Linked DNA regions of Homo sapiens: regions 1, 2 and 3 are each reported to be linked to region 4. Evidence: microRNA targets listed by miRTarBase, many of them from high-throughput screens and not tested one by one. Region 4 holds a microRNA gene; each other region holds the end of a gene's coding sequence.

Evidence for each region. Region 4 holds the annotated microRNA hsa-miR-603 (CACACACUGCAAUUACUUUUGC, at 4,790-4,811, shown strand). A microRNA usually pairs through its seed, bases 2 to 8, with sites in the 3' UTR of a target mRNA and lowers its output. Matches are read on the target gene's strand: a 7mer-m8 pairs with bases 2 to 8, a 7mer-A1 pairs with bases 2 to 7 and ends in A, and an 8mer does both.
Region 1: miRTarBase lists TCF15 as a target of hsa-miR-603. Seed matches in the 3' UTR shown: 7mer-A1 at 1,401-1,407 and 7mer-m8 at 1,424-1,430.
Region 2: miRTarBase lists NFAT5 as a target of hsa-miR-603. Seed matches in the 3' UTR shown: 7mer-A1 at 5,732-5,738 and 7mer-A1 at 7,578-7,584.
Region 3: miRTarBase lists CASD1 as a target of hsa-miR-603. The part of its 3' UTR that is shown has no 7-base or 8-base seed match.

The regions. Positions count from the first base shown.
Region 1 is chr20:597,595-605,734 of GRCh38, reverse strand. It overlaps TCF15 (transcription factor 15), which reads left to right. Exons shown (of 2, transcript NM_004609.4): 2 at 1,070-1,478. The coding sequence ends at 1,144. Among named protein-coding and RNA genes, the nearest start is that of TCF15, 8.6 kb to the left of the region's middle.
Region 2 is chr16:69,694,115-69,702,254 of GRCh38, forward strand. It overlaps NFAT5 (nuclear factor of activated T cells 5), which reads left to right. Exons shown (of 15, transcript NM_138713.4): 13 at 1-125; 14 at 1,022-1,265; 15 at 2,246-8,140. The coding sequence ends at 1,257. Among named protein-coding and RNA genes, the nearest start is that of SNORD13H, 10 kb to the right of the region's middle.
Region 3 is chr7:94,554,567-94,562,706 of GRCh38, reverse strand. It overlaps CASD1 (CAS1 domain sialic acid O acetyltransferase 1), which reads right to left. Exons shown (of 18, transcript NM_022900.5): 17 at 8,132-8,140; 18 at 5,688-7,215. The coding sequence ends at 6,949. It overlaps LOC105375404 (a long non-coding RNA gene), which reads left to right and starts at 4,212. Exons shown (of 4, transcript XR_007060433.1): 1 at 4,212-4,285. RefSeq lists an enhancer at 6,548-6,597.
Region 4 is chr10:24,270,956-24,279,095 of GRCh38, forward strand. It overlaps MIR603 (microRNA 603), which reads left to right and starts at 4,730; the gene lies at 4,730-4,826. The region is part of intron 2 of KIAA1217; the gene reads left to right.

The sequences.
Region 1 (8,140 bases), not on the chromosome of region 4:
AGCTGGTAGAGACAGCCCCTGTAAGGACTGATGGTTTCAGGGACTGCCGCCATTAGCCCATCTTCCAATGGCTGCCACTTAATTCAGGCGGCCTTGATTGGTGCCTGCTCCAAGTCAGGTCCTGGGCCAAGAGAGCCCAGGCTGGAAATGGGACCACAGAGTGAAGAACTCCTTTTCCCTACCACTCCCTGAGATCCCAGTCCAGATGGGGAGACAAAGGAGAGACCCTGCCTTGTCCTTCTGAGATTCATCCCCATGGAATGTCCCCAGAAAGGCAGGAAGTGCTAGGCAATTTCAGGAACAGAGAAACCTTTCCAGGGAGACAAGACCTGAGAGCACATTCCTGGGAAAGGGGACGCCCTGAGGGAAGTCAAGGAGGCCAGAAACCGAGTCCCCTTTTAAAGGTGGACGAGTGAGCCGCTAGGCATGCAGTCAGGCAGGGGGAGGACCACTGTGGGGTGTGCTTGTTTTGCCCGTGTAAAATATTATGCTTTAAAATATATTGGATTTTTTTTAAGCAACAGATCATATGGGAAAGAAGTAGAAAAGGTAAAAAAGTATAGCGTGAATACAAAAATTAGCCGGGTGTGGCGGTGGGCCCCTGTAGTCCCCGCTACTCGGGAGGATGAGGCAGGAGAATCACTTGAACCCGGGAGGCAGAGGTTGCAGTGAGCTGAGATTGTGCCACTGCATTCCAGCCTGGCAACAGAGCAAGACTCCATCTCAAAAAACAGTATAGCATGAGAGAGCCTCCCTCCCATCCTCTCTCCATCATCAAATTCCTCTCTGAAGAAACCCACTCACAATTTCCCGTGTGTGCTTCTCCCCAGCAATCACAGCACACAGGCGCATTCAGCCTGCCCCTTGCTTTTGTCCCTAAACATTGTCATTTGGCAGCAGTCTGTATCAGTCCAGAAAGGGTTTCTTCTGCTTTCTGTTGCAGAGAACTTGATCGTGTGGCTGAACTGTGATTTATTGATCAGGATCCCTCTTGAGGGATACAGAGGTTAGTTCCAGTGTTCACACTGGCCTAATCGAACCTCTTTATACTCTTTCTCCCCCTCTGCAGGGTGGCCGTCGTGACCTGGGGGGCAGCTGCTTGAAGGTGAGGGGGGTGGCCCCCCTTCGAGGGCCACGGAGATGAGCCTGGACCCTGGAGAAGGAGGCCAGGAGCCAGCCACTGGCTGGACAGGGAAGAAGACCCCAGGAGCCAAGCCCACCCCTTCTTTGTGTAGGGACCGGGGGACCATGGCCTGTTCCGGGACACTCTGGGCAGGGCCCTCGGGACATCTCCACCCGATCCTGGAGAGCTGTGAGGATCCATTCAGCCTGCCCAGCTCTGGCTGGTCAGAGACAAGGCAGAACTTTTGGAAAAACAAAGACTGTTGGTGACAGGGTGTGTGTGTATCTGTGCGTGAGTGTGAGTGTGTGTGAGAGAGAATTGGTGAGTTTAAAATAAAAGCTATTTTTAAATAAAAGACGTCGTTCTGAGCTGAGGAGAGTCCCGTGGACATCGGAGGTCAGAGGTGGGCCCTCCCCTGGACCTAGAGAGAGGCACAGATGTTCTGGGGGCTGCCCTGAGCCCTGGAAGGGTGGGGGTGGGGCGGGGGAAGGCAGGCAGAGCCCCCTCTCCGGGCGCCATAACCAAACTTTCCTCAGTCTGCTGTTTATCAGATGTTCTTAACAACTGTTAGGTGTCTGATATGGTTGGTAAAGAAATCTTAATTTTACTTATTTTTGAATAAGGCCTGTGTTCATTTCATTCACATGGTTCAAAACTCAGAAGGTACCAGAGGGTATGTGTTGAAAAGTCTCCGTGCCCCTGTCCTCCAGCCACCAGCTCTCCTCTCTGCAAGCAGCCTAGGGCACCAGTTTCCTGTGATGTCCCATTCACTATGAATGATCAGGCAAATACACAAATGACAGCACATCGTACACACTTTTGGCTCCTTCTTTTTTTCCTTAATCTAGCTTGGTATCATCCCAAGTCAGTACCTAAAGGGTATTTCATTTCTTCCTGAGCTGCTTATTATTCCATTTTGTGAACATGCCATCCTTTAACCCATCCCTCTTTGATGCGATCACCAACAAGCCATGTGGTTTTCCACAAGTGCAAATGAGTGCATGCTAAAGGGGAATATTCTTACCCCTGTGTTAGCTGAAATGCTTTAGAAGACCGATGACACCCAGAGGCACGTGGCAGGGTGACACCCTGAGGTCCGTCCACCTTTGAAGCCCAGAGCAGCTCCTTCCTTGCCCTGGAGATGCCCCAAGTGGAAAGCCAGCACCTGTTACCCCAATTACACTCCCAGGAGCCCTGGGAGGTGAGAGCTGGTGTCTTCCCCACTGCAGACCCAGCAGAGACAGCGATGCGTCAGCTGATCAGTGCAGCTAGGAGTTCTTGGCTCTCGGGCTGGGGCTGTGTCCCTGTGAGGTCAGGATCAGAGAAGCTCGAGAGGCCCGAGGGTGGGAGAGCCAGGGAAAGGCCAGGGCAGCCAGGCAGCCACCCTCTCCTCAGCAAGGTACATTCATATGCCTATTTCAACAGTTTATTTATTTAACAAACACTTTTATTTTTATTTTTTTAGAGACAGGGTCTCACTATGTTGCCCAGGCTGGTCTCAAACTCCTGAGCTCAAGTGATCTATTTCATGTTTACTGACTGCACTCTGGCCCCAGAGTCCACGTTCGTATCCCCTCTGTTCTGCCTCTACCCCACTCCCCTGCGTTTGACCATCTGAGCCTGAATTGTGGCTCCGATTTTGCAAATTGACAAACAGATTGTCAATACCCTCTGTGTGGCAGGCACTGTGCCAGATGCCACAGGAATGAGCCCGACCAACCTGGTCTTCCTCACAGATGAAAACCGAGGCCCAGGGAGATCAAGGGAGTTGTGGAATTGCCAGTCCCTAGGCTGGAGCAGGCCATGAAATTACCATGCTTAATTCCTTTGGTGTAAGAAGTAGAGGAAGGAGGGCCCCAGGGGGCCGGGGTCCCCCACCCAGGAGAGCTTTCCAAGCACCCTCTACCTCACTTCCCCGCTGTTTCAGGAACACTGGTCGTGCTTATCCTGTGTCCCAGCGTGGCTGTGCTTCCCCCTTTGGGAGCTGATTAGGAAAGCACATTGCTCCCCCTGCGCCTACCCTCCCAGGTACAGCCAGCCTCTGGCAAAGCCACAGGAAAAGGACTGTGGCCTTGTCAATGGCAGGAAGCCTGGGAGTGGGGGCAGAGCAGACACTTGGGTGCTCTGGCTGGAGGCCCACTCCGCCACCAGATTTGCTGGGTGACCCCAGAGATGTTGCTTGACCCCTCTGGGCCTCCCTGGCTCAGTCTCTAACTAGTAAGAGCAGCTAGAACAGAAAGATAAGTATTTGTTTTGCTTTGTGAGATAGTTTTTAATAGACCCTGTATGCACTGGTAAGTAATCCAAGTTGTATCAAATGGTATGCAGTGAAAAGTACAGACCTCCTCAGGCCCCTCCCCAGAGGCAGCTTCCTGAGTGTCCTTCCAAAAAAGCTTCTATACTGATAACTGTTTCTGAAAAAATATTTATAGGTTTCTCTGCCTGTGCTTTCATTGTAAAACAAATTCAAAATGCTATAAGACTCTAGAAATATCACTTATCCCAGAGACAGCCACAGTGAAGACGATAATCCCACCGAGTATTTTTTGTTGTTTTGTTTGAGATAGGGTCTCACTCTGTCACCCAGGCTGGAGTGCAGTGGCACAGTCATAGCTCGCTGCAGGCTTAACCTCCTGTCCTCAAGTGATCCTCCCACCTCAGCCTGCGGAGTAGCTGGAAATACGGGCATACACCACCAGGCCTGGCTAATTTTATTTATTTGTTTATTTTGTAGAGACAGGTTCTTACTATGTTATGCAGGCTGGTCTCCAGCTCCTGGGCTCAAGCGATCCACCTCAGCCTCCCAAAGTGCTGGGATTATAGGCATGAGCCACTGCGCCCAGCTCTGCAGCGTTTTTGTTAAACTAGCACACATACGCTTAACAAATCATTTAAACCATGCTAAGTTTACGCTTTTTTTTTTTTTTTAAGATGGATCTCACTCTGTCACCCAGGTTGGAGTGCAGTGGCGTGATCTTGGCTCACTGCAACCTCCACCTCCCGGGTTCAAGCGATTCTCCTGCCTCAGCCTCCTGAGTAGCTGGGAGTACAGACGTGCACCACCACGCCTGGCTAATTTTTGTATTTTTAGTAAAGACGGGGTTTCACCATGTTGGCAAGGCTGGTCTCGAACTCCTGACCTCAGGTGACCCACCCATGTTGGCCTCCCAAAGTGCTGGGATTACAGGCATGAGTTACTGCGCCCGGCCAAGTTTACACTTTTTATGGAAGTATAAGACACATTCAGGAAAGTGCACAGGGTGTAAGGGTACAGCTCAATGGATTTTCACAAGCTGAGCACACCTGTACACCCAGCATGGAGATCAAGAAATGCAATTAGCAGCTTCCCAGGAGCCAGCCCCTCTTGCACATCTACACATACCGGTTCTTTCCTTTGAATGAGACACAAAAAAGAATAAACTGACAATAAGTCTCCTTCTCTCCCAGCCACCAGCTCCAGTCCCCAGAGGCAATTGCTATGTTAAGGTAACCAGGATCCTATGGATTCCGGCAGAGATGGTCTGCATATATAGGCAAATTACATAGATATTGTTTTTCCACACAAGTGGTAGCATTTCACACACTCCTCTCTGCACTGGATTTTTTTTTCTTAACTGTACTTCTTGGAGACCCTTGGTTGCTTACAGAGCTGTTTCACACCTTTTCATAGCTGCATAGTGCTCCATTATGCATATTTTGCAGCTTGCTATCTTCCTGGTAATGGACAGTTAATGCCCATGAGCCTTTGTGAGCTGCAAGGTCAGCCCACACACGTGACCGGGGAGAAGCACAGGTGTGGTCTGCATATATAGGCAGCTCCTCTGGGGAACATTTTGTAACATTGTCCGCTCCCCCAGCATGCCTGTCGCCTCCGGGATGGTCCAGCCCAGCCAAGCTTCTCCAGGCCAACTTGAGGCCACAGGAGTAAAGCTGCTCAGGGAGAAGAAATCCAGGACTGAAGGGGTTGGAATGACCGACTCAGCCAGGCCACCTTGGACCCCAAAGGGTTACACTCTCCCTGCAAGTCTTGACACATGAAGCAGCAGCACAAGAATAATCTCAGAGTTCATCATTTCACAATGAAGAAAGTGAGACAAGACAGAGGGCAACCTGCCTGGGGTTCCCCAGCAGGTCCTTGGCCCTGTTGGGACACCAAGAACACAAATCTCCCTCCTTGCCATGCAGGGCTGTTTTCTCTGACTCCACAGTTATGAGCAGGAAGGCCTCAGAGGTCACCCATGGCAACCTGAAGCTCAGAGAGGAGCGGTGATGGGCCACGGTTGCACAGCATCTGGAGCTGAGCAGGGCTGAGAACACAGGACCTCTTGCACCCACAGCACTTCAGGTTCCCCTCATTGTCCCAGGCCACTCCCATTTTATGAGGCTTTTATTAGGTTAAAAAATGAAGCACTACAAAAAGAGAGTGCTGAAGACTATGGCATATTTGGTAAGTTAACTTTTTTTTTTCTTTGAGACACGGTTACACCCTGTCACCCAGGCTGGAGTGCAGGTGGCACGATCATGGCTCACTGCAGCCTCCACCTCCTGGAGTCAGGTAGTCCTAGCGCCTCAGCCTCCTGAGTAGCTGGGACTACAGGTGTGCACCATGATGCCCAGCTAATTTTTTATTTTGAGGGGGTTTCGCCATGTTGCCCAGGCTAGTCTCAAATTCCTGGGCTCAAGCAATCCTCCAGCCTCAGCCTCCCAAAGTGCTGGGATTACAGGTGTGAGCCACTGTGCCTGGCCTGGCAAGTTAACTCTTAACTACCTCCACACAGTCAGGAGCGTGATGCATTATTGTGGAACACCATATAATTAGAGGATTTATAGAAACATTGGTTCATGGGACGTACATATGAAGTTGGATGTCTTTGTTCAACCCCATCTGTGTCTCTTACGACTGTATATTTTACCTCGTGTAGTTGTGATATCAAGTATAGACCTGAACAGGTAAATGCGATACATGACTTTGAACTGGATCCTGTACTGCAGAGGGGAAAATGTGACAGGGGACCTTCTTGGTAGAGTTGACAATTTTTTTTTTTGAGACATGGTCACACAAAATTGGGATATGAACAATAGATTAAGGTATTGCATCAAAGTTAAATTTTCTGTATTTGCTAACAGCACCCTGATTGTGTCAGAGGATATCCTTGTGCTTAAGAATTACATCCTAGGCCGGGCGTGGTGGCTCAGCTTGTAATCCCAGCACTTTGGGAGGCCGAGGTGGGCGCATCACCTGAGGTCAGGAGTTCGAGACCAGCCTGGCCAACATGGTGAAACCCTGTGGTGGCAGGCGCCTGTAATCCCAGCTACTCGGGAGGCTGAGGCAGGAGAACTGCTCGAACCCGGGAGGCAGAGGTTGCAGTGAGCCAAGATCGCACCATTGCACTCCAGCCTGGGTGACAGAGTGAGACTCCGTCTCAAAAAAAAAAAAAAAAATACATCCTGAAGTACTATTAAGGAGAAGTATGATGTAGGTAACGTGCTCTCTCAAATGGTTCAGAAGAGAAATAATATATGTGTGAGAGAAAAGGATAGAGTAAATATGACAAACTTAAAATGTGGTGAATCTGAGTACAGGGTATATGGGAGTTCTCTGCACCACTTTTGTCACTTTTCTGCATGTTGTAAATGATTGCAAAATGAAAAGTTAAAAAGAAGTTGGGATCTTGGCCTACTGTGATGCGAGGGCTGCCAAATGGTGTCCTGGCCCCCTCTGATGCACCCTGGCTTTAGCTTGTCCAACAGACGATGGAAAATATCCCCAGCAGACCCAGGTGCCTCTGCTCGTGACTCTCAGGCCCCTGTGCCCCTTAGGAGGCTAAGGTGGTCCCATCCCCCGAGTCTCCTGCCACCATGATTTATGTCCCTATGAGCCTCAGCAGCTGTGAGCACAGGTCCCACTGGGCAGCCGGCTGGGGGGGCTGGCGTTTGCTTCTCAGCGTGTCTAATCCAGACCAGATTTGCAGACCCCATGGGCCTGGGATAGAGCTCCCAGGGGGCTAGGGTCAGAGGGCAGGCCAGCAGGGCCTGGAAACCAGGGAGGCACTCAGGATGAACAGGCTGCGAGACAGAAGACCTAGCCTATTCTAGGTTGGCCACTGCTCCTGTGTGACCCAGGGTAGGCGTCTGGCCCTCTCTGGCCCTTGCTTTTCCTCACGTCAGCACGGCCAGCAACTTTGTCAGCTGGGACACACTGGCCTTGTGGGAGGGAAGGCTGATAAAATCTAGGAGTTGTTTTTTTCTGAATGGCTTGGAAAAATGCCTGACTCTTTTGAGGACCTACTACGTGTCAGGCCTAGGCTATGCACTTTACATAAAATAAATACAGCTTCGCGGGGGGCAGTGGCTCATGCCTGTAATCACAGTGCTTTGGAAGGCGGAGGAGGGCAGATCACTTGAGGCCAGGAGTTCAAGACCAGCCTGGCCAACATGGCCAAACCCCATCTCTGCTAAAAATACAAAAATTAGCTGGGCATGGTGGTGCGTGCCTGTAATCCCAGCTACTCAGGAGGCCGAGGCAGGAAAATCCCTTCAACCCAGGAGTTGGAGGTTGCAGTGAGCCGAGATTGCACCACTGCACTCCAGCCTGGGCAATAGAGTAAGACCCCGTCTCTAAATAAATAAATACATACATACATACAGCTTGCTCAAAAGCTGGTTAGATATGTATTATTATTGCTCCATTTTATAGATGAGGAAACGGAGGCACAAGGAGGTTAAAGAACTTGGCCAAGGTGACACAGTGGCTGGTGGATTTGAATCAGATGTTCTAGCTGCAGAGCCCCACTGGGCTCTCAACCACCACCCCCACATGACCTCACCAGGTGCGTGCCTAGTCCTGATGTTGATGGAACTGACTAATCCAAGGCACTTCTCTGAGTGACATACAGAGATGGCCTCACTTGCAACAAGCCACATAGGTAGGTACTGTTGCTATCCCCATTTCACAGACTAGAAAACCAAGCCCAAGGGCACCCAGCTAGGCAATGGCACAGCCAGGATTCCAACTGA
Region 2 (8,140 bases), not on the chromosome of region 4:
ATCTTCGCCTCAACCACAGGCTACTTTATTTCACAACACAGCAGGAGGCACAATGAACCAACTGCAGAATTCTCCTGGCTCATCTCAGCAGACATCAGGAATGTTCTTATTTGGCATTCAAAATAGTAAGAAACTCTAATTTTTCATTACTTAATTGGTCATTATTATTATTAGAAGGAAGCAGAGTGCAGTGGTGCGATCTCAGCTCACTGCACCTGCACCCTCTGCCTCCCAGGTTCAGGTGATTCTCCTGCCTCAGCCTCCCAAGCAGCTGGGATTACAGGTGTGCACAACCACGCCCAGCTAATTTTTGTATTTTTGTTAGAGGCGGGGTTTCACCATGTTGGCCAGGCTGGTGTTGAATTTTTGACCTCAAGTGATCCGCTGGCCTCGGCCTCCCAAAGTGCTGGGATTACAGGCGTGAGCCACCACACCTGTCCTGTATAGTTGTTTTAAGAGTACAGATTGTAGTTAGAACTCTATCACCTATAGACTATAAGATCTTGTACAAGTTATTTGGCTTTTATGGGTCTCAATTCTCTCATTTAAAATGGTGATAATATTACATACTTTACATGGATTTGGGGAGGATTAAATATGGCAATGTATAAAAATGTGTGTTTGCCATTTTAAGCTATAAACTTAAAAGGAAAATGAAGTCAGAATGACAGATAATACCTTACCCAGTTGAAGTAAGTAGTTTCTAAGGAGGTAGAAACTCATCTTTAATGTTTATATACCAAGGAATTTATATAGGACTTTTGATATTTAAGCAAAGTTGTATTTTTAGACTGCTTAAAGGAAACCTAAGATGAATTCCAGTGCCAGTCTGTGAAAACCTTTTTCTTGGACTATCAGGTGCCTAACTTTTAGTAATATACAAGGAGAATGCAGTAATGAATTTTCCCCAACAACTAATAAATATCTTTTCATGAATCTTTACTAATCAGATAGCTTCTATTTTTAATGTTTCTGCAGACTGTAGTCAGCTTTTAAGCTTCTGTTTTCAATGTCTCTGCAGACTGTAGTCAGCTTTTAACCTCTGGACCAGCTACATTGCCTGATCAGTTGATGGCCATAAGTCAGCCAGGCCAACCACAAAACGAGGGCCAGCCACCTGTGACAACACTTCTTTCTCAGCAAATGCCAGAGAATTCTCCACTGGCATCCTCTATAAACACCAACCAGAACATCGAAAAGATTGATTTGCTTGTTTCATTGCAAAACCAAGGGAACAACTTGACTGGCTCCTTTTAACTGGATATGTAAGTATTGCATTTTGGCTTCTTATTGAAAAGCATCAGATTTTATTCTTCTTAACAGATTTAGGTTAAGTAATAGTAGTTCTAATCTTTTAAAATGTGGCTTTCTCACAAGATGATACTTTTTTACTCTGAATAAAATTATTCTGAATGATAGCTTATGGTCATATAGTTAATACAGACCAGGCCGGGCGTGGTGGCTCATGCCTGTAATCCCAGCACTTTGAGAGACCAAGGTGGGCGGATCACGAGGTCAGGCGATCGAGACCATCCTGGCTAACATGGTGAAACCCCGTCTCTACTAAAAAATACAAAAAAAAAAAAAAATACAGACCAAACATCCCTAGTCCAAAAATCCAAAATCCAAAATGCTCTGAAATCCGAATCTTTTTGAGTGCTGACATGACATCTCAAGTGGAAAATTCCACACCTAACCTCATATGATAGGGTCATAGTCAAAAGTCAGGCTCACAACATGCAGTTTATTTGGTGTCCCCAAGGGTAAAAAAGATCCTTCCAGCTCCCTTCAGCTGTGATAGATTTTTTTAGGTGTATGTGAAACAGAAGTGAATTTCATGTTTGGACTTGTGTCTTATCCCCAAGATATCTCATTGTGTATATGTGCATATTCCAAAATCCAAAAAAGAAATCAGAAACACTTCTGATCCCAAACATTTTAGATAAGGGATACTCAACCTATATTGGACATTCCTTCTGCCTCTGAGCTTCTTTGCCTTGGAATAACAAAACATCTGATGAGTATGCAAAATGTGTTTCCTTTGTACTATATATTGGATATAACCATGCCTCACTTATCCCTTCCTCCAGAAATAAATATTGAGTCAGAAAAGTCTGTGGAAGATCAAATATGATAAAGTTTTACTTACAGTACCATAATATACTTTAGGATCATTCAGGGTGTCAGAAACTTTATAAATGCTTCCCTCCCTAGTAAGTTAAATTAAACTTTTTCTCTTTTTTAGAAATTCCACGAAGAAAATCCTGATTCCAAGATGTCCTGAGATCTTGTGGTTCCATGAGAATTATTACTTTAAAAACAAAACAAAATATAAAAAACTGTGTTTGAGTAAACTGATAGATTTTACTCTGACTGCAAAAGAGCACACCTATGCTGCTTGTTGCAGTAACTAACCACCAATGTTAACATCTTCATATTTTATATTCCTAATAACAGTGATGACTGAGAATCTATTTGAGTTTCCAGCTGGCAGAATTAATTGTTATTATTTTCCTAGGCGCAATTTCCTTAAACGTACAGTTTAAATTCAAGGCTGGACCACTCAGTTATTATTGCTATTAGAAAATAATATATCATGTTTACTTTTGTTCTTCATTATTTTCTTTCCTGCATTGTTTTAGTCAAGTAATGGCTTTTGAAAAAGTAAAGTTCAATAATAACTAAGGCTGTGATTTTTTTCAATATAAAAGGCACAGCTGTTGGCCAAAGTGAAGGAATCTTTTTTCAGTTTTATTGGAGAAACTGAAGGGTAACATTCTAACAAGTAAACTGTATGTGCAGATAAAAGTACTCTTGATTTAACACAAAGGCAGATGATACACTTATAAAACTGGGAACAGCTGGAATGCTTCTTGATTTTATTTTTTCAGAGAGTTGTTAGTTCTCTGGGTTTCTACTAAGGGGTTTAGCCATAACTGTGCATAGAAAAATAATTATCTGTAAAAAATGAAGGGGATAATATATGATAAATTATGTTCTGATATCCTCCTACAGTAGTTTAAATTGACAGAAAAATTTGAATGTTTTCTTCTTAACCCAGTCTTAGGCTGGTATTCCCTTTTTATATATATCTATATTACTTTTCACCTCTTTTTCACTTTACTTTAGAGAACTATTAATATACTACTGGCTTCATGACCCTGTAGCATCTTTGGCCACTTTAATCTAGGGTGACCTAGCAATCCTGCAGCACAGGGCAGAGAGTACTGTCTTAGGAATTATTAGGAGTTGATTCCTGAGAAACAACACATTTTTCCCCATGAACGGTGCTGTTCTGAAGTCTTCAAATTTTTCCCTCTAATAGGAAACAGTATAAATTTTAATTAAAAAAAAAAGGCAAACTAAAATTTCTTGAAATATCACTTCTCCCTGATCTGCAGTGAGTATAAATTCACTTGTCACCTCAGTGCTTTACAGTTTGAAGTGGTCACTTACCTGATGGTTCCCACAAGCCTTAGGCTTTACAGGGTTGTATCATTGACTTAAAATGAAGAATTAACTTGTGTTACATCTATAAAGAGCAAAATAACACACTCCAGAACTTGGCAGTTGTAGCATTAGTTATACAGTTTTGGGTGTTCTTGCCACCCGTGGGATGCCTGCTTCTCACTACCACCTGTGTCTGGACACATGCTTATGTCTCATTTTCCTTTTGGCATGTGGAAAGCTGTCAATGCAGTGTAAGGCCAACGTGTGTGTGGCTTCTATGTGTTGAGATAATGTTTTGGTATCCTTGTCCGTTTCATTTATTTTTTAAGTGTACAAAAAATAACCTGTTAATTGTTGAAGGCTACTTTTCTGTTCTTTTTTTTTTTTTTTTTCTATCCTGTACATTTAGTTGAACTGTGCGGAATTGTGGTGTTGGTTTTGTTTACACAGCCAGATTTTTCCTTCTTTTTGTTTTGTGATGATCTTCCTTTGTTCTTTGAATGTGCTCTTTTGTCTTTTTCTCTTTTTTCTCATGTTTTCTTCCCTCCACCTCCACCCCTTTCTTTCTTTCTCTCTCTGATTGAGAGGCATTGAATTACGTTTTCAGTAGTACAGGCTTCTTGCCGATATGAAGGGAACTTTTCAGAAAGAGACCTACTCTGGGTCATTTAATTTTGAATACAGTTTTCAATCGTTCAAGTTTTGGATGGTTTATATCTAATGTGTGTTTCATTTTTTTGGAAAGCTATATTTTGTATTTAGGAAATGGTATACTATTTTGCTATTTGTACTGAGTGAGTACATTGGCATAAATATAGAAATTTATATATATACATATATATAAACTATTCTTTTTTGCCACACATTTTTGTGGTAAATTTGTGAGTTTGTCTGATGTTCTACCACAACGTGGCGTCTGATAACAGTGAGGGGGGGTGGGGTTTGTTATGTCTTTATTGAGTATTTAAGTATCTTTTGAAACAAATGACCTGTTCATCTGTGGCCATTCCATCAGGCAGTTAGTTCCTTGATGTCAGTAGTGGGCTAAAGGCAGCTTACTGTGTGTTTGCTGGAGCTTTCACTCAGCCAAGTGTTAGAGTCAGGAAACCCATTGAGGCAATGGCGTCAAATGGTGTTTCACAAGAATGAGCCATTCAGTCTTTGCTCACTATATATTTAATATTTTATTATTGTTGTTATTGTTATTATTAATTGGCTTTCTGTATTCTATGCCTTTTATTTATAAAGACACTAAGAAAACCCATGTTTGTAATTTTAATAACATTTTTCCCATCTTGTAATATCCAGAGCTACTTTATAAATTCTCTGAACCAAAAGTATTTTCCTCAGTGTATCTCTTCTCCCCCAGCCCCTATTGGGAAAAATTACCCAGTATAGTTCAGGTTATGAGGAGGATCAGCCACACAATCCAGTGCTTCAGTTTGAAAATGTAAAATTCTAACCCTAAAGTAGGGTTGGTTGAAATTTCAGACAAAGCAAACCCAGCAGGTATAAAAAGTAGTATAAATACAAATCTGTAAGTTATTTTTGAATTTTCTGAACTTTTTTCTAAGAGATTACATAGGAGACTAAAGAAATCTATCTGTTCAAGTTCTAATTAGGATGATTGTTAATACTGCACTGTGGATGAAGTGGCGACTGGCTTGTGTGCTGACTTCTGTGGTTTAGCAAGAGGTTTATTGTTATCAAATGCTAATTGGCAATGCCAAGTCACTGGGACCAATTTTCTGTTTTATAATATCTAAGTTTAGAACAGAATATATACCTGAACTGTAGTGGTTTGATCGGATGGAGACAGAAAACCCGATTTTTATTCTCATAAATTTTGTGGTTATTTATACAAGGGCTGTGCTATGCTACCATATTCTTGTTCAATAATAATAGGTTTGTTGTTTTTTTTACATTGTTAAATGTTCCTTACCCCTAAAGGTCAATGTTAAGTACAACATTCTGAAAATACAATTTGGCTACGAAGAGTATTCATCTTCTTTGAAGCTCAGTGGTTGATATTTGTGCTAATAATGCAATTTCCTGATTACTGTTACAAGTTATAGCTACATATGGGAGAGACTCAGTGAGCCAGCAAAGGCCATAGAAACAACAATTTATTAAATGTATTTATGGCAGAAGGACCTAAATAAACTGTGAGCCACCTTTTCTTCTTTATATTGTTACATTTAAGTGTTCTTGCTTTCAGCAACTCACATTAATGCTTGGAGCTTATCTCTTTCTCTCTCTCTCTCTCTCTCTCTGTGTGTGTGTGTGTATGTGTGTGTGTGTGTGTGTGTGTTTCCTTATTGTCATTCCATTATATATCCACACCAACATGGGTGACGATAATTCAAAGTCATATTTTGCCTCTAAGCTTGATCATGTTACCTTTATGATTAAAGTATCATGTTATTTAGCCAATGCAAATCTGTTTTAAAACAAATAGTTTAAAAAAAGAACAAGTTTTTAAGGGCTTTATTATAGAAGAAGTATTAATGAAGGACTTTCCTTCCTCCCTCCCTTTCCTCCCCTCCCTGCCTCCCTTCTTCCCTTCCATCTCCCCCTCCTCCCTGCCTTCTTTGTTTCTCCTTCCCTTATTCCTCCCTCCCTCCTTTCTCCCTTCCTTCCTTTCTTCCATTCATCCTTCCTTGCCTTTTATTTTTATTTTTTGTAATATCACATGTGCTGTAGTTTGGAATTTTATTCTAGTGCATTTCTTGCTCATCAGAACCTCAGCTAATCTACCTAGGAAAAATAGTATCAAAGGAAATGAGAAAGTTGTATCTGAGTCCCTCCAGAACTAAGATAATTCTTTTTGACCATTTAAGCCTTTATAAATGCGTTTTGACCATTTAAGCCTTTATAAATGCTTGTTTTAGGAAAGTGAATCTGTTAGATGCATCAACAAATAATGACCAGGACAAAACGATTTAATAATTAAAGTCTCAAATCACCATGGTTATACATTTTCACCAGAAATAGTAATCTTACAATTTTTCATTTTTCTGATGAAGATTTCTGTTCCAATATCTGTTTCCTAATAGATTTTTTAAATTAATTAGCTTTCCTCTGCTTTATGACCACAGGTTTTATCCCTAACCGAGACAGCTGTCTTATATCTGCATGCCTTAGACTGTGTGGAGGGACTCCATGAAGAAAGACCATAGGTTAGAAAAATAACTCATAGTATATACCCTAGTAAGTGGGTTAGTAGAATCTCATAACATGTATTAAAAAGAGGTTTTCTTCTCTGCTTGTTTGTGTCACTAGAGCAAAATTGTAGAGATAATGCTCATAATGCAGTAAATATCAGAATAATATCTACAATATCATTTGTGGATGGTCCCAGGTCCCAGTGCTCTAGTTACTTTACTTCTTTTTTTTTTTTTGAGATGGAGTCTTGCTCTGTCTCTCAGGCTAGAGCAGTGTGCGATCTCAGCTCACTGCAGCCTCCACCTCCCAGGTTCAAGCGATTCTCCTGCCTCAGCCTCCCAAGTAGCCAGGATTACAGGCACCCTCCACTAGGCCCGGCTAATTTTTTTTGTATTTTTTTAGTAGAGATGGGGTTTTGCCATGTTGGCCAGGCTGGTTTCGAACTCCTAACCTCCAGTGATCCACCTGCCTCGGCGTCCCAAAGTGCTAGGATTACAGGCATGAGCCACCACATCCGGCCTAATTACTTCTTTAATCCCCATTTATTTTTATGCCATTCTAGCCTCATTTATTAATAAAATTATGTTTTTACTTTCTCTTTCAGGAAATTTTTTAAATTAATATTTTATATCTAGATCTAATGCTATGGAAAAGTGCCTTTTTATCATTTATAATTTCATTTTTCACTATTTCCAAAAACACATAAACAAATAGTTTCAGTAGGTCCCAGCTTTTACTTTTTCCATTTAAACCTTCTTTTCTCCATTTCTTCCCTTTGGCTTAAGAATAAAAGAAAAGGTACATTGCTAGAATTGTTTCTTTGGGAGAGGGTAAAAGATTACAGAATTAGACTGTTCAGCCTTTATATAAACTAAATTTGTCTTCATCTCAACCAGCTAATGGTAGGTCTTATCTGAATACTCATGAGAATTTTAGCATCTGTGAAACTCCATGCACCAGATGTGTGTAAATTTCAGGAAGAAAGTGTTGAAAGCATTTTCTCTGATGTTAATTAGATGGAAATAAATCACTAAAACATAGTTTAGGTAAAGCCTGATTATGCCACTTTTTTTTAACTAGACAGGGCAAAGTTGTTTATGTTAGTGTACTTCTTGTCTATCCTCAGTTAATTTACCTAGACAAAAAGTGTCAAAGGAAATGAGAAAAAGGTTATATCTGACTCCCTCCAGACCTAAGATAATTCCTTTTGATCAGATACAGTCAGATGGAGTGCCTTGGTTTTTGTTAATTTTGCCTCTATTCCAGCTCCTTACCACAGCGGTGGTGCTTAAAGAAAGGATCATCAGCAACAGGTCAGGATAGTTCTACCTTTGGGATAGGGCTGCTTTCCCCGTGCTAGTATTTCTGTGACTGTTAGTGGCACTGAGGACTGCAAACTTTTATGCAATATTCTTAATACCCTATTGATATTATGCACTTTAATCATTCCAAAGAAGCCAAGAATGCTGTATAGTGATGATTCCTTCCTAATGAATTCATCTTAACTATTTAGAATGTTATGTCC
Region 3 (8,140 bases), not on the chromosome of region 4:
AAGAGGAAACAATTGGCAGTTAGAGAAGGAAATGGCATAGCTACCATTGGAATTTTTGGTAATCTCAAAGAAAAAAAAAAGGAAACTGTATCGACTGAAAAGAAACACATGAAGTGAACAGGATAAGGAGAACTTTCGGCCTTATTTTCATAAATTGCAGAGAACTGTGAACATTTGTTATAGGGACATTTCGTGAGCAACTCAGGGACCCTAATGAGGAGATAAATGACTTGGAAGACTAGGATTTTCAAACATAACCAGTGAGGCAAAAATATTACTACTACCATTTGTATATACTATGACTCTTGATCATCCTGACTGGTGTGGTCTGAAGAAACACTTAGGACTACCAGACTGCCTCATTTCAAAAAAGAATGTAAGATGGCTTATAAGGCTAGGCAAAATATAGCCAAATAACATCATCTGAAGTATATGAGAAGGAAAAAGGGATCAAGAATGAGACTAATATAAACAATACCAAAGTGCCCTGTTTTCTAGATGGAGCACAAATTTAGCTCTTGCTTCTTATCGGCAAACATAAAAAGCCAACTCACAATGTACCTAAGATAGTAGCAAATGAACTGTTTACAAGAGGTGCAAATATTACAGTAAGGTCAGAATAACTTCAGACTCCACAAAAAGAGCCCATTGTGTGATGTAATCAACATTCCTACAGTTGACACAATGATGAGTTTCATAGAATTGTTTATAGAATGTCCTGCAATGCTAACCAATGGCTTCAAACTCAAGAGAAATTCTAGGGGTAAGTCAGGAAGTTACTGTCCAGGCGGTCTTTGCTAGGTGCTTGCCAGACTTAATTCTCAGGTACATTCTAAAGTATCTGAGGAAGTGATAAAAAGCAAATCCCTAACATTCCTTTATAAATACTGTTAACCACAGTCAAACTCACAGAAGATAGATATTAGCTAGCTGACGGTTCATGACTGGAGTTCAGCCACCCTAGGGTTCTAAGAAAAACTGTCTTAATGAGACATTAAGCTGGTGTAGGAGTGACATCTTTTAGGCAAACTTGAGTTTAATAATCAGTAGTTTCTGAGAGAATACTCTAGAGTTTGACCGAGGTTCTCTTTAGGAAAAAAAAAAATTGAATCTGTGCTCTCACACAGACAGATGGGCCATTTAGGTTCCAAAGTTCTGCTCAATATAACCTAGTCTTAATTAATTTTAGTTTGGAAAATGTTTAAGGAAGGCATAACAGTGGCCATTAAAAAATCTTTGCCCTCCCCGCAATTCCCAAAAAGCATCCATAGAAAGCCTAACTTTGAGTACTGTGGTTTCCTGATGTTCTTCCAAGTTAAATTATTTATGTAATGAACATTGAGGTATCTGAATGAAGTGACCTTCTGTGTAGAATTAGGAACCAAGTGAAATTTGGAAAACAGCTTGGTGTTTCTAAACTATAAGAGCTCTCTATATACCCAGGATATTAATTTTTTTTTGAGGCAGAGTTTCGCTCTTGTTGCCCAGGCTGGAGTGCAATAGCGTGATCTCGGCTCATTGCAACCTCTGCCTCTGGGTTCAAACGATTCTCCTGCCTCAGCCTCCCAAGTAGCTGGAATTACAGGCCCCCACCACCACACCTGGCTAATTTTTTGTATTTTTAGTAGAGATGGGGTTTTGCCATATTGGCCAGGCTGGTCACGAACCAGGACATTAAATTCTCATCAAATATTAATGTTCTAAAATGTTCCCACTTGTATTTTTTCTATTATGTTTTTGGGCATACTGAAATTTTAAATTTTCACGTAATAGATGTAGCAATTCTGGATTTACCTTTTAGCCTTAACAGGTCATTTCTCATCTAAGAATGAGATGTTCACCTACATTTTCTACTGTTTATTTTACATGTCTTTAAACCTATTAATCATTTTATATTTCTTTTGGTATACAGAGTAAGAATGGGAATTTATCACTCTCACCCCTCAATTAAGCAATAGTCCCAGGGCTATTTAAAGAATATTTCTACCTTTCCCCAGTAATGTGAAATCAAACCATTACCTTATTCTAATATCTTTTGATAAAATCTGTTTTTATGCTGATTCTATCCATTAATCTATATATTCTTGCATCCATTCCACACTGATATTAGTGTAAATAATATATCCAAATATACAACTTTACAAATCCCACTTCTCCCGTTACTCTAAAACTTTTCCTGGATATTCTGGCCCAGGTATTACTTCTTTATAGTTTCCATTTTTAATTTTGTAGTCTCTGAGAAAGGGCTCCAGTTCCATGTGCCTTATGCATTACGTACTTTGGAAGTACTGGATTCCTCAGACTTCAACTAAATGTTTTTCCATCACTTTGTCTCTCCCAGTGACAGGGTCTAGAGGTGGGGATAAAATGGAAGGGGTCAAGGAAAGAAAGTGCTGAATTCTTAGTTCTAGTTTTCTCTCAACACCAGAAATAACTGCCACTATTTTCTCCTGACTAACCTAAGAAAAACACATCATGCCACTCCCAATATTAGTTATCTTCAAAAACCTGTCTAGTCTAGTCTTATGAAGGAAGGCATATTCATTCCGTCTATCAGCAGGACTTTGACCCTGTGACTTGTTAAAAACAAAACAAATACTAACCTACTTATGAAAGAGCTACAGTCAAAAATCAAGTACTAAGGATGGATAGAAAAGAGAAAGACAAAGCCTAAGAATTAAAACAACAAAACAAACCAACAAAACTGCCAGATATAGAATCAAGCTTTATTTTTACTGAATGATAGTATAAGCTTTTAATATAACATAGGCATGTATAATATTGAAGATATTTTAATTTGAAAATAAAGGGAAAATACATTTAATTATTCCATTTTTCTTAGTTTTACTTTGAATTCCAAATAAGAATTTTAATACATTTTTGGCTGGGCACGGTGGCTCACGCCTATATCCTAGCACTTTGGGAGACCGAGGAAGGTGGATCACCTGAGGTCAGGAATTCGACAACAGCCTGGCCAACACGGTGAAACCCCGTCTCTACTAAAAATATAAAAATTAGCCAGGCATGGTGGTGCACACCTGTAATCCCAGCTACCTGGGAAGCTGAGGCAGGAGAATTGCTTGAACCTGGGAGGCAGAGGATGCAGTGAGCCGAGATTGCGCCATTGCACTCCAGCCTGGGCAAGAGAGCGAGACTGCCTCTCAAAACAAAACAAAACAAAAGCAAAACAATTTTAGTATCTTTTTTACTAAGATGTAAAATGTCAGGTGCTCAGGACAATTTTACTGCTGAATCCCTGAAAGACAAAGGGTATTTTATTCCATTTCATATTTCCCCCAAATTGTTCATAATGGTTACTTTTGAACATAAATGTCTGCGTAATTGTAAAAGAAATTATTCCATATATATACATATATATATACACACACACACACACACATACACACACACACACACACACACACACACAGACATATATACAGAATTTGGGTATTCCAATATTGTTATATTTAGGTTCTGGTACCACATTGAATGCCAGTTAAATAGCTTCCATTTGTGTCTCCTTGTTTCTACTATGACTATTAATATGGAAAGGCAGAACAAATAGTGCCATTAAATTTTTGTAAGATTTAAAATCAGAAAATCAGGCCAGGCACAGTGGCTCACGCCTGTAATCCCAGCACTTTGGGAGGCTGAGGCAGGTGGATCGCTTGAGGCCAGGAATTGGAGACCAGCTTGGCCAACAGGGTGAAACCCCAACTCTACTAAAAATACAAAAATTAGCCAGGTATGGTGGCAGGCACCTGTAATTCCAGCTACTCAGGAGGCTGAGGCAGGAGAATTGCTTGAACCCAGGAGGCGGAGGTTGCAGTAAGCCAAGATCACGCCACTGCACTCCAGCCTAGGTGACAGAGTAAGACCCTGCCTCAAAAAATTAATTAATTAATTAAATAAAATAAGAAATCTATTCTGGAAATCAGTCATCAAACACCACAATTTTGGGAATATAGTTTGGACGACCACTTCCTTTTCTGGAAACCATTTTTAGAATAAGAAAATGAGCCAGAATACACCTTGCCAAATAAGTTTCCCCAAATCACAATTATGATTTGGGGAATGAACACAAGAATGAACAAATTAAGTCATAAATGTATGCAATCATTTTTGAATGTCTTTGCAGAGAAATATTCAAAGTGGTAAGATGGATTGAACTGCCAACCAAAATTGTCAATCTTTATTTCAGTCTTCACTATTAAGCTAAAAAGGTAATTTTTCTCTTGAATGATGTGAAGAATTGAATTTCTTTCAACTGTTCCAAAAATCTGTAAGTACAATACTACCTAATCTCCTGTTATGCAACAGACTCCCATGTGGTACATCCAATTCATTACACAAAACACTGAATTGTCTGCAATGCAAGCCATGGAACACATCCAGTTTATGATATCAATGACTATATCCAGGATGCATTCCCGTTTTAAGGTTTTAGTATAAAGTCATTCGAGAATAGAATAATAAATGAACTTGGGTCCCACATCCTTGTAAAACATTATTAATTTAGATGGGCTGAATTTTTAATGCTTCTATTGGCTACCCACAAAAATGGGAAGTTTTGGCAAAGGAAAGGAGGAACGATTGAGGTAGAATTCAGTCAAGCAAGTACCTTTTAAAGCCAGATGGTAGATTTCTGACTGTGATTTCTATTACAGAAAAATCTGAATTTAGAGAACCTCTGTGGTTTTATCTCAACTTTAGCATATCTAAACATCCTGTTAAAAATCTTATTCTAAAGAATGGTATGATTGAGTAATGCAAATGGTCAGTATCTGAGTCGATGCAGAAAATAAAATATTAAGACATTTACCGTATATATAGGTGCTATCATTGTGGCAACTTCCACAATAACCTTTTAAGACTAATTAAGAAAATCAAATATAAAAAATATTTTTAACTACAAATAAATTATTTTTAAATTATACAGATTATTATATAATTATATGTAAAAAATAGTGCTTTATATTAAATAAGAACAAGTGATGAAGAAACAGGGCTCACCAGGTAAGTTTTAGGCTTCAGTTCAAATAGGAGAGAAAAGCATATATTCACTGCGGCATCCCTACTGAAGACATAAGTGCTTCCAAAATACACAGGGAGACTGGTCATCTTTCTTTTTCAATTGTTTCATCAAGAAGAATCTTTTTCAGGTGATAAAACTTACAAGCTAAATTAAAATGCACTCTACTCATTGGCAAGCTACATGAACAAGAATAATGTGATCACAGTACTTGGAAGTTTTTGATTTATAACTATACTATTCTCTACTTATAAGGCTGCAGTCTAGGAGGCAGAGCAATGAATCATTACAATTGTCTATCTGGGAAATGTCAAAAGATTAAGTAAGGGCAAAAGAAGAGAGAAAAGGAAAGAACACACATCTCTGTCCAAGAAATATTCCTCTATTAATGGAGGTATATCAGTAGCACATAAATCCAGTGCTAAATAAATAATAAGTACATTTTTAAAATCTTCAAGCAAAATCACTAATGAACCATAATGCTTAAACTTCCTTGGTGGAAAGCAGATGACCCTCTGAAGCTCTGATAACTAAATGATTCCTTATCCAACTATCATTTGGTAACCTACCCCTACATATTAAGCAATTTAAAAAGCAAATTTAAGTTGAGGAAATAATTAGATATTTGAACCAATCATGAATGGATCCAGCATTTTTGAAAAAGAACACATATAGTTTAATTGATACTTTGCCAATACAAAAATAAGCATCCACAGAATGTTTATTTACTGTTTAAATTACTCCATATTTTCATATACTGTGAACAGAAAATATATTTTACCCCACATATAGTAAAAGCAAACAAGTGCAATCTTTCAAACATTAAAATCATAATCAAATCTGTACAACAGATAAATAAATGTATACCTCTAACAGTTAGCTTGTAAAAAAAAATCAAACAAAAAGCAAAAACATTTATTGCCCAAATTCACCAGTTTACTTAAAATTCTACTTATGGTAATACAGCTCAATCGTAACAACTTGCATGTTTACTACACTGCACAAGTTTAGACTGATAAATATTTAAAATAGGAGGTGGGTAATAGGAAATACCAAATGGCTATAAAGAGCTTTCCAAATATTGGAAATAATATACGAAAATTAATTAGTGGGGATAACATATTAAATGGATCCACAGGGTAACTGGTATTACACTGGTATAGCTTGAGGAAAGGAAACAGGTGAACGTTTGGATTGGAAAAAAAATTTTGGCTTTTTTATAAAACGAAGCAACAATAACATCAACAATGACAAAACCCTGTCATGGAGCCTCAGAACTATTCTGTGAGACAAAGTGTACAAAGATTTAGGCTTGCATACCCGAAAACCACAGTTAGGAAGAAAAATCATTTCAGGAAACAACATCAGAACAAGAACACATATAAATTAAAGGCATACTGTTTATCATTCCACTTCATTGCACATATAAGAAAACAATACTGCCGTCATTCTTGAGTAAGAAAGTTTCCAATGAAAGAGGAAGTTCCACAATGAATACAGGTGCAGACAGTCTTATTACCACAAATTTAGTTATATCAAAACACTTGGTGGTGTCACTAAGTTAATTAAATTATCTATACTTTTTACTGGAAAGGTAATCATTTCCCTGCCTTCATATGTTAACTTAAAATCACTTACAAATGGAAATATAGATTCAGTAGAAAAGACTTCACATGCAATCCTATACAATGCATTCTGGTTTTTTGTTTGTTTGTTTGTTTTAGTATTTCATATTGGATATGTACATTTCCAATATATACAACCACATATGTTCAACAGATGTCACAGAACTGTCCTCTTGCCACAAACGTTTATATTTACATACACATTTATATCTCCAGATAGATGCTTTTCTCTTCTAGAGACACACAAAGGTAGCCTGAAGAGTTTAGGTTTTTTAGAATTTTTGGAACCTAATGTTTTGATTTATCTTGAATGGATGATAAGATGAGGAGTCCACAAAAAAATGCAGCTATACATGCCAACCTTTTCAAGAGAGATGAGTTATCTTTAGGAATAATAATCTGTGCAAGATCATTAGTGATCTGAGAAATTTCATGTGCCACACAAACAAATATGAAAGTGCTGACAATGATGTTGAGCATAGGGTTTCCAGGTATCAGTACCAAGATACCCCTTGTGTCCGCTGCCAGCCATATGTGATACTGGCAAATAAATAGCTAGGAGAAAAAATATTTAAGTCAGATATTTATAGAGGGTCCATGAATAAATTACAGTTTTCCCTAATTTAAACAATTTGGTTGCATAATAACATTAGAAGGCTTTCCTAAAACCATTTTATTCTGTCTCACTACTGGCCCTGAAAAGTCCACTGCAGTCTACTCCTTAGAACTCCAACTGCTAATACAATCTCTCTTATAAATGAGACCAAAGAAAATAATAGAACAATTATTCAAGAACTCAAAGAGGAATTTATTTTCCCTATTTTAAGAGACAATTTAATAAATCCTATACTCTAAAAACTCTAAAATATATGTTGTTATTACAATATAAATTGTTTTAAAACATTCTATTTCAAATAATAAAGCTTAGACTACTCAGAATACATTTTAAAACCTACTGTTCAAACTGATTTTGTAGATAATTTCATATTATGTATCTTACACAAAATGTAATGAGTTTATACTTTCTCCCACAATTTCCAATCATAATAAGGGTAAATTTTATTATGGTATGCATCAATAAACTGAATTCCAGTAATATATTTAATTATGGAGATGAACAAAAAATCAAAATCCCCTCAGTTTGATTTCATTTATATACCTGGTCTAATATTTTTCTCTCTTGGTCTCAGCATCTTGGTTGTGCTTGAAAGCTCAAGACAACGTAAATAATATTTTGCAAGTAATCTATATCTAGTCATTTAAAAATAAGGCTTAAAAACATTCCAAAATACTTTAGTATTGTTGAAAGTTCTAAGTCTTTTCCCTGTAATTCCATAATAGCTTCAGTTTAGAAAAAAGTACGTCCGATTTTCATACTCACATATATGTGTGATATTTACACACACACACGTACATACACAAACATGAAACACCTGGCTGTGTAAGATAAGCAAAATATTAATGTACCAACCTCTAATGA
Region 4 (8,140 bases):
TTTATTCTGCTGAGGGGAAATGGGTGAGACTGCCAGATTTCTATGAGAATTACAGGGTTTTCAAGTCATTATGGAGAAAATGATTGAGGTTCAGTGTCATTGGAAAAAGCATATTCTTAATTTGTCTATAATTTTTCCTTTAATTGGTAGTTTGGCTCCATTTTCAAAGTACTTTTGAAGCTTTCTTTTCCAATTTGGCATCAAAGTTATTTTTCTAAGTGCCATTCAATTTGGGACTTATTTTCTATTTTGATTGACATAAAATATGTCATTCTGAAAGGAAAAATATCAACACAGTTTTTGAGTAAGAAACTCAGTAACATTGAACTTAGTAATCACCTCCCTAGGAGTGAAATTTCATGGTCATATATATTGAAAAAACCTCACAATATAACCAACATGCTATCTGAATCTTGATTGAGATTCCACATCATAAGTGCTAATTTCAGTTCTGACTATAACCAATTTGTTAGTTTATACTTACTCTTTACTAAAGGAAAGAAGAGTAGGAATAGGATGGTGCGGTGGCTCACACCTGTAATTCTAGCACTTTGGGAGGCCGAGGTGGGTAGATCACATGAACCCAGGAGTTCAAGACCAGCGTGGGCAACGTGGCAAAACCCCATCTCTGCAAAAAATTATAATAATTAGCCAGGCGTGGTGGCATGTACTTGTAGTCCCAGGTACTGGAGAGGCTGAGGTGGAAGGATCACCTGAGCCTGGGGAGGTTGAGGCTGCAGTGTGTCGAGATTGTGCCACTGCACTTCAGCCTGGGTGACAGAGTGAGACCCTGTCTTAAAAAAAAAAAAGAGTGAGAATAATGAAACTGTGCACACGCAGGCCTTTTAATAAACTTTCCCCCTGTACGCAGCCCATTCTAGCTATATATATTTCTTGGTCCCAGCCTCTTCAAATAAAAATTGTTTTATTCAAAAGTATGACCTAGCCTTATACAAGATAAGATAGCCCACTTAAAAGTGGCATAAAAGGCCACTTTTATGCATCTCCATTTTAGGTTGGTTACAAGAGGCACAGAGAGACCAAAGCCCATGGGATGCTCGTGAGAGTAGGAAATTGGGTGGGAAGGGTGGACTCGGGAGACAACCTGACATCTCTCTACTTGAAGCCTAGCAATAAGGTTCAAAGGTTCCTCATGCCTTGTTTTCCCTTCTCTCTACATGATTAAGATCCCATTCCTGTAACAGATAGCAATGTGTTTATGCAGTAAAATTAGATAAGGGAGATTACTAGGGAAGTCACTACTCAGTTAGGGATGTCAGTGGTGCTCACTGCAGGTCCAGGTTAGTAATAAGAACTCTGGACTAGTAGCTAGGAGTGCTTGAATCTAGATTAGTTCTACTTTCTAACTCGATGTGTGACATTTTTTCCACTTAATTTTTTTGGCCTTGGTTATCTTATTGGAAAAAATATTCAAGTTGCACAAATAACTAAATGATGCCTGAGTTTTCATTCAGTTCTAAAACTTCTCAACTGAGCAATCTGTTGTTGAAAGGAGAGTACGAGTTCTAAAAGCTACTCTAGGGAGCTCTGCATTCACCAAGCCGCTCCATCATTGTTGGGAAGAAAATACTAAGGTTGACTCATTGTCAAAGCCACATTCTACTCAAACTCAATGTACATAACTCGAATTCTAGCCACATTCCAGCCAAATTGAGATAGCTGTTCAAATAGTCATGGATTTATTTAATAACTGACTTCGAAATTCTTTACTTCTTTCAAGGTGGCATTAACAAGTATTTCGGAATTTCAACAGAGATCGGTTTTCACGTGCTCTTCAATGATCCCTGTGAAATAAATCATATTCAAGGGTTTTTTTCCCCTTATGAGTTATTCGCCTGAAGGAAGAATTCTTCATTTCTTTTTCTTTTAAATGCATGTTGGAATAAAGTCTTCTTTGAAAAGTCTTAATGAAAAGAGCAAACGTGGAATAGCATCCACCCCAGTTCTTTCTCTGGTCCTTGCACTCTGAGAATGAAGTCTTAGACAGCAGAATGTCAGGGGACTCTCATTGCGTAAAAGTCTGTGCCCTTCTGCGCCTTGGACAGTTATGGACAGAAGCCTTTAAGAAGAAGAAAATTAAAACTAGTTAATTTTTTAGTTAATTTTAGCAACACTACATATATGAGAGAGAGAAAAGATGGCATTTTCTGAATGAATGAGATGCCTCTGCATTTTGCCCAACTCATTGGAGACTCAGGATAGAGAAAAGGGAGAAATTATGTTTAGAGGCTGATAAATTTCCCTATGGTTACTATCAAGAGATCAGACTCTTATTAACATTTGCAAAGTGTGAGCAGAGAAGAGCATTTGAACAATAAGCATAGATTAAGTACTCCTCTTTCCTTCATTCCCTTTTCTCTAGTCATATTCTCAGACAGTCCAGGCTAAGTATTAATGATCTTCTTTGAAGTTAAACATACCCTTGCTACTTTCATTACATTATTATTTTTATGTTCTTCCTTTTGGAGTACTCAAGGTAAATGACATGGCAGAATCTGTCCCAGTCCAGTGAGGGTGTCACATAAGAGGCCCTTGGCTTACCTCTATGCATAACTGGCCCACGTCACATCTTTAATTAGAAGTCCAAGTTATTGGCTGGACGCCATGGCTCATGCCTGTAATCCAAGCACTTTGGGAGGCCAAGGTGGGTGGATCACCTGAGGTCAGGAGTTCGAGACCAGCCTGGCCAACATAGTGAAACCCTGTCTCTACTAAAAATGCAAATATCAGCCGGGTGTGGTGGCACATGCCTGTAATCACAGCTACTCGGGAGGCTTGAGGCTGGAGAATCGCCTGAGCACACGAGATGGAGGTTGCAGTGAGCCGAGATCGTGCCACTGTGTTCTAGCCTGGGCGACAGAACAAGACTCTGTCTCAAAAAAAAAAAAAAAGTCCAAGTTACTGTTGCAGGGATTGGGACATCTTGCCTTTCTCAAGTTGAGCAATATTCCCAAATATAAAAATGTAGGATCTTAGTCCAATCAGAGCAGATATTTGGTGTAGGGCATTTTCTAATGTAGTACCAATAAATTAGACGCATACCTCAACCAAAAAACAGCCCATATCCAGTAAGTAATAAGGCAATGATTTACATTTCACATATTACCAGAGTAATGACTAATAGCATACATGTATAAACTGAAAAGTGACTGATGCTTATTTTCAGATGGGTCCAAATTTATTGGATAATTATGGAGAATAATGTATGTTTTCTGAGAGTTGGTAGTAAGAAAATATTGCCATTGCTGGCCAGGCACAATGGCTCACACCTATAATCCCAGCATTTTGGGAGACTTGAGGTCAGGAGTTCATGACCAGCCACCTCAGCCTCCCAAGTAACTAGAACTACTGGTGCATGCCACCAAGTCCAGCTAATTTTTTTTTTTTTTTGAGACGGAATATTGCTCTGTCACCCAGATTGGCTGTGTTCTCCATTCTAAGTCCAGTGGTTAGAAATTGTCAAGTTCTCACATCTGCAAAAAAAGTAAAAAAGATGAACCTGCTACATCTAAATATACTTTGTTGTCTTCCTACAAGTCCTATTTTACATACTTATGGCATTTTTACTGCAGTTTGAAAATACAGTCAATTCTTGTTATTCACAGTATTGATGTTCTATAAACTTGCCCTAAATACTGCATTAGTGAGTCCTGAATTTATTAGTTAATACTGAATTTCCTAGGGGAAATACAGGGTTAGGTTCCTGTGAGTCTTTGGTTACCTTTTTATCAACCAATCAACAAAAATCCTTATTTTACCTGTGTTTTTGTTTGAAGACACCTTTTAAAATATATATTATTGATTCATTAGCATTGAACTAAGCTTATCTAATGCACTTATTTTTTGTGTAAGGTGTATCACAGCCTTCTTGAGCCTAGGAATGCCAAATAGTACTTCCACACCATACTTAAGGGCCATTTCATTTTATTTCTTATTTTTAAAATTTATTCTCTTTTCTTATTTAAAGAAAAAATTTGTAGATGCCGGGTCTCGCCCTCTTGACCAGGCTGGAGTGCAGTGACACAATCACAACTCACTGGAGCCTCAAACTCCTGGGCTCAAGTGATCTTCCCACCTCAGCCTCCCAAATATCTGGGACTACAGGCACACGCCACCATGCCCAGCTAATTTTTTAATTTTATTTTTTTGTAGAGGCAGGGTCTGGCTATGTTTTTGAGGTCTTAATTCCCCAATGAACATGACTAGTATATTCCAGGCTGGTCTTGAACTCCTGTCACAAAGCAATTCTCTTGCCTTAGCCTCCCAAAGTGCTGGGATTTCAGGCATGAGCCACTGCACCTGGCTTGGACCATTTTAAATAGTGAAGTCACTCACACACACATACACGCATGCAGGTGCACACACAGACACAAAAAGACACAAAAATGCGAAACTTGTGGCACTAAAAAGACTGTGGAAAGGGTGCTTCCTTACAGTATGAAAACTGAAACAAAAAAGCAGAGTGTTGTTTAGTTAGACGCCACCTGGGAACGTGCTTGTTGGGAAACTCCAGTTGTCCACTGTCCTGCCATGTCTATGATGACTGCAAACATTTGGGAGTATTAATTTGAGGGTCACAAACAGATTTTAGGTGATGGGCATATTTACAAATACAGAATCTGCTAGTAATGAGGACTGACTGTATAATGCTTTAGTAGTCTCAAGTATGTTTTTTTTCTCATTAAGCCTTTGCTTAAGATGCAGGCAAGATTGATGCTGTTGGTTTGGTGCAAAAGTAATTGCAGTGCTTCCCATTTAAAAGTAATGGCACACACTGCAATTACTTTTGCTCCAACTTAATACTTGGCTTTATTGACTTTTAGCATCAGTGCAGTTTGGTTAATGATAAAATTTTCCAAAGCAGTGTCTCATCTGCAGGAGCAAACTATAGCAAGGGCCCTGGCCATCAGTTCTCCCTTCTGGTCCTGATATTCCTTTTTAAACTGTCTTTCCATACCCCTCCCTCCAGTGGGCTTGGCGATGTTGCATTAAATAGCAAAGAGAAGGAAACTCCTCCCCAGTCCTCACTGACCATTTCTTTTTCCACTCAGTCCTGCTCAGAATGTAGAAGAGAAGTTGAATTTAATTCATAAATTCAGCAGCTTGAGGACTGTCAGTTTTGTCGTTATTTAGTGAAATAGTAATTGAATTGGGCTACAAGGTCATTGGAATCTGCTGTTTCATTTCATATCATTTTACGTGTTATTATTCTAATAAGAATACAAATGGAGTTTGATGCCATTTGCTGATCATCCATCTTATTGATGCCATTGAACAGAACGCAGAAACACAAAGGGATTTATAAGGCATTTCAGTTTTGATGTCCTTTGAAAAATGAAAGTCTTTTCAGAAATGCAAAAGACAAAATGACTTAGAATTCCATCTCGTTCTGCCCGGTTTGAGGGCATCCCTTCCTATTCCTTAGATAGCTGTTAATAAGAGTCCTGAGGAAAACTGGGTTTGAATTTAAAAACAAAAAATTTTTAAGAGACAGGGTCTCGCTTTGTCACCCAGGCTGGAGTGCAGTGGCACAATCATAGCCCCTGTAACCTTGAAGTCCTGGACTCAAGTGATGCTCCCACCTCAGCCTCCCTAGTAGCTGGAACTACTGGCACATGCCATCAAGTCCAGCTTTTTTTTTTTTTTTTTCTGAGATGGAATCTCACTTTGTCACCGAGGCCGTAGTGCAGTGGCGCGATCTCGGCTCACAGCAACCTCTGTCTCTCAAGTTCAAGTGATTGTCCTGCCTCAGCCTCCTGAGTAGCTGGGACTACAAGCATGTGCTACTACGCCCAGCTAATTTTTGTATTTTTAGTAGAGACAGGGTTTCACCATATTGGCCAGGCTGGTCTGGAACTCCTGACCTTGTGATCCGTCCGCCTCAGCCTCTCAAAGTGCTGGGATTACAGGCATGAGCCACCACACCCAGCCAAGTCCAGCTAATTAAAAAAAAAATAAAAATCGTAGAGATGGGGTCTCCCCGTGTTGCCCAAGCTGGTGTCAAATTCCTGACCTCAAGCAATCCTCCCACCTCGGCCTCCCAAAGCTCTATGATTATAGATGTGAGCTGCCATGCCTGGCCTTAAATTTTTCAAAAGCTTTTAAACCAATCTTAAAATGTTTTATCCTCTTAGAATCATGTCCCTAGTTTTATAGCTTGGAAATTCTTGCTCTTTTCAAATTGCTCTTTAACTCTGGCCTGATTGGAAGGTGGCAGCTTTTCAAATACAGGTCATGGCAGCGCTCAACCTGGATTCCTCAGTTGCAGAAGACTGCTTTTGCTAGACTGCTGAATTTACTTCCAACTTTTCAGATGTTTCTGAGGTTGACCCTGGTGTGGTTCCCACTCAAAGTGGAGCAAGCAGGTGGGTGGCAGGTCTCTTCTTAGCGGCTTCCTAGAGGGAAGCCTCGTGAGTGGGATGGGGGACAGGTTGCCCTGGGGGAGCCCAGGAATGGGGAGACAAGGCCACCTGCTATGCAGATGATATAGTTTGGCTGTGTACCCACCCACTTCTCATCTTGAATTGTAGTTCCCATAATCCCCACATGTTGTGGGAGGAACCTGGTGGGAGGTAATTGAATCATGGGGGCGGTTTTCCCCATGCTATTTTCATAATAGTGAGTGAGTTCTCATGAAAGCTGATGGTTTTATAAGGGGCTTTCCCTTTCACTGGGCACTCATTCTTCTCCTTGCTGCTGCCATGTGAAGAAGGACGTGTTTGCTTCCCCTTCAACCATGATTGTAAGTTTCCTGAGGCCTCCCCAGCCCTGCAGAACTGTGAGTCAATTAAACCTCTTTCCTTTATAAATTACCCAATCTCAGGTTTGTCCTAATCGCAGCATGAGAATGGCCTAATACAGTAGGTTTTCCTGAGTCCTCTCTCTGACTCACCCTCTGACGGGCAAAAGACAGTGGCAGCACTGCCAGCAATCAGCTGGGAACTTCTCCCCTGTGATAGAAAGCAGTGCTTGCTGGCTTCCCTTTGTGATGCTTTTGGACAGCAGCTCTATGGACCTATGCCTTTTGTCCTTTGAGGACGGACGCACAGTCTGTGCAGCTCGAGGACGCCGTCATGGGTGAGATGCTGTGGAGTGTGATGACGCCACCTCTTAGGCTGTGTGTGAAAGTAGCGAGGAGAGGCAGGGTCTGCATGAGCCACTTTGGAGCAGGCCAAAACACTGTGGAGAAGCACATTACAGCCACAGTGGCGGTGTAAAGGGTCAGACTGACCACTGGCTTCTGGAAAGTCTTCATTTCTGAAAGACTGTCAGGTAGAAGATGGATGAGAGTTACTCTGTGAGGCCGGAAACCTAGAACTCAGACCATTGTGTGCAGACCAGGGAGAGGCAGTGTTTGGAGTGAGATAAGCAGGAATTTTGAAATTACACAGACCCGGTTTTGAATTTACTCATGAGCTGTGTGGCTTAGAGAAAGCTGTTTAATCCCACTGACCTTCATCTGTGAAGTGTCCAAAAATAATACAGAGCTTGCAGAGTTGTGTGGATAAGGGATAATCTATCGAAAGCATGTGGCAAGTGGCAGACACAATGTGGGCACTAGGCAAGTGGCAAGTCCCTTGTATTGAGTCTTATTTGTCTATTCAGTGAATATTTGGATACCAACTCTGCTGTTCTGGGCATGATGTTAGCCACTGGGGAGACAGAAGGAATGAAAGAGATGAGTAACCTAATGTGTGCTGTCTAGTGGGGACTGCAAATAAAGTGGGTGTTACCACTAGCGTGCTCTACAGTGTTATGCTAGAGAGAAATTTACTTCCTTTGGCCACTCACTTCCTTGTTTTTAAATAAGAACTGAGTTAAAGTTGCTAACTGTGAAGACTGAGTAATTTGAATCTGCTGTTGGTGTACTCAGATTACTTTTTTTTTTTTTTTTCTTGGAGACAGAGTCTCACTCTGTTGCTCAGGCTGGAGTGCAGCGGCCCAATCTCAGCTCACTGCAACCTCTGCCTCCCAGGCTCAAGCGATTCTCATGCCTCAGCCTCCTGAGTAGCTGGGATTACAGTCACGGGCCACCACTAATTTTTGTATTTATAGTAGAGACAGGGTTTGCCAGGCTGGTCTTGAACTCCCAACCTCAGGTGATCCGCACATCTTGGCC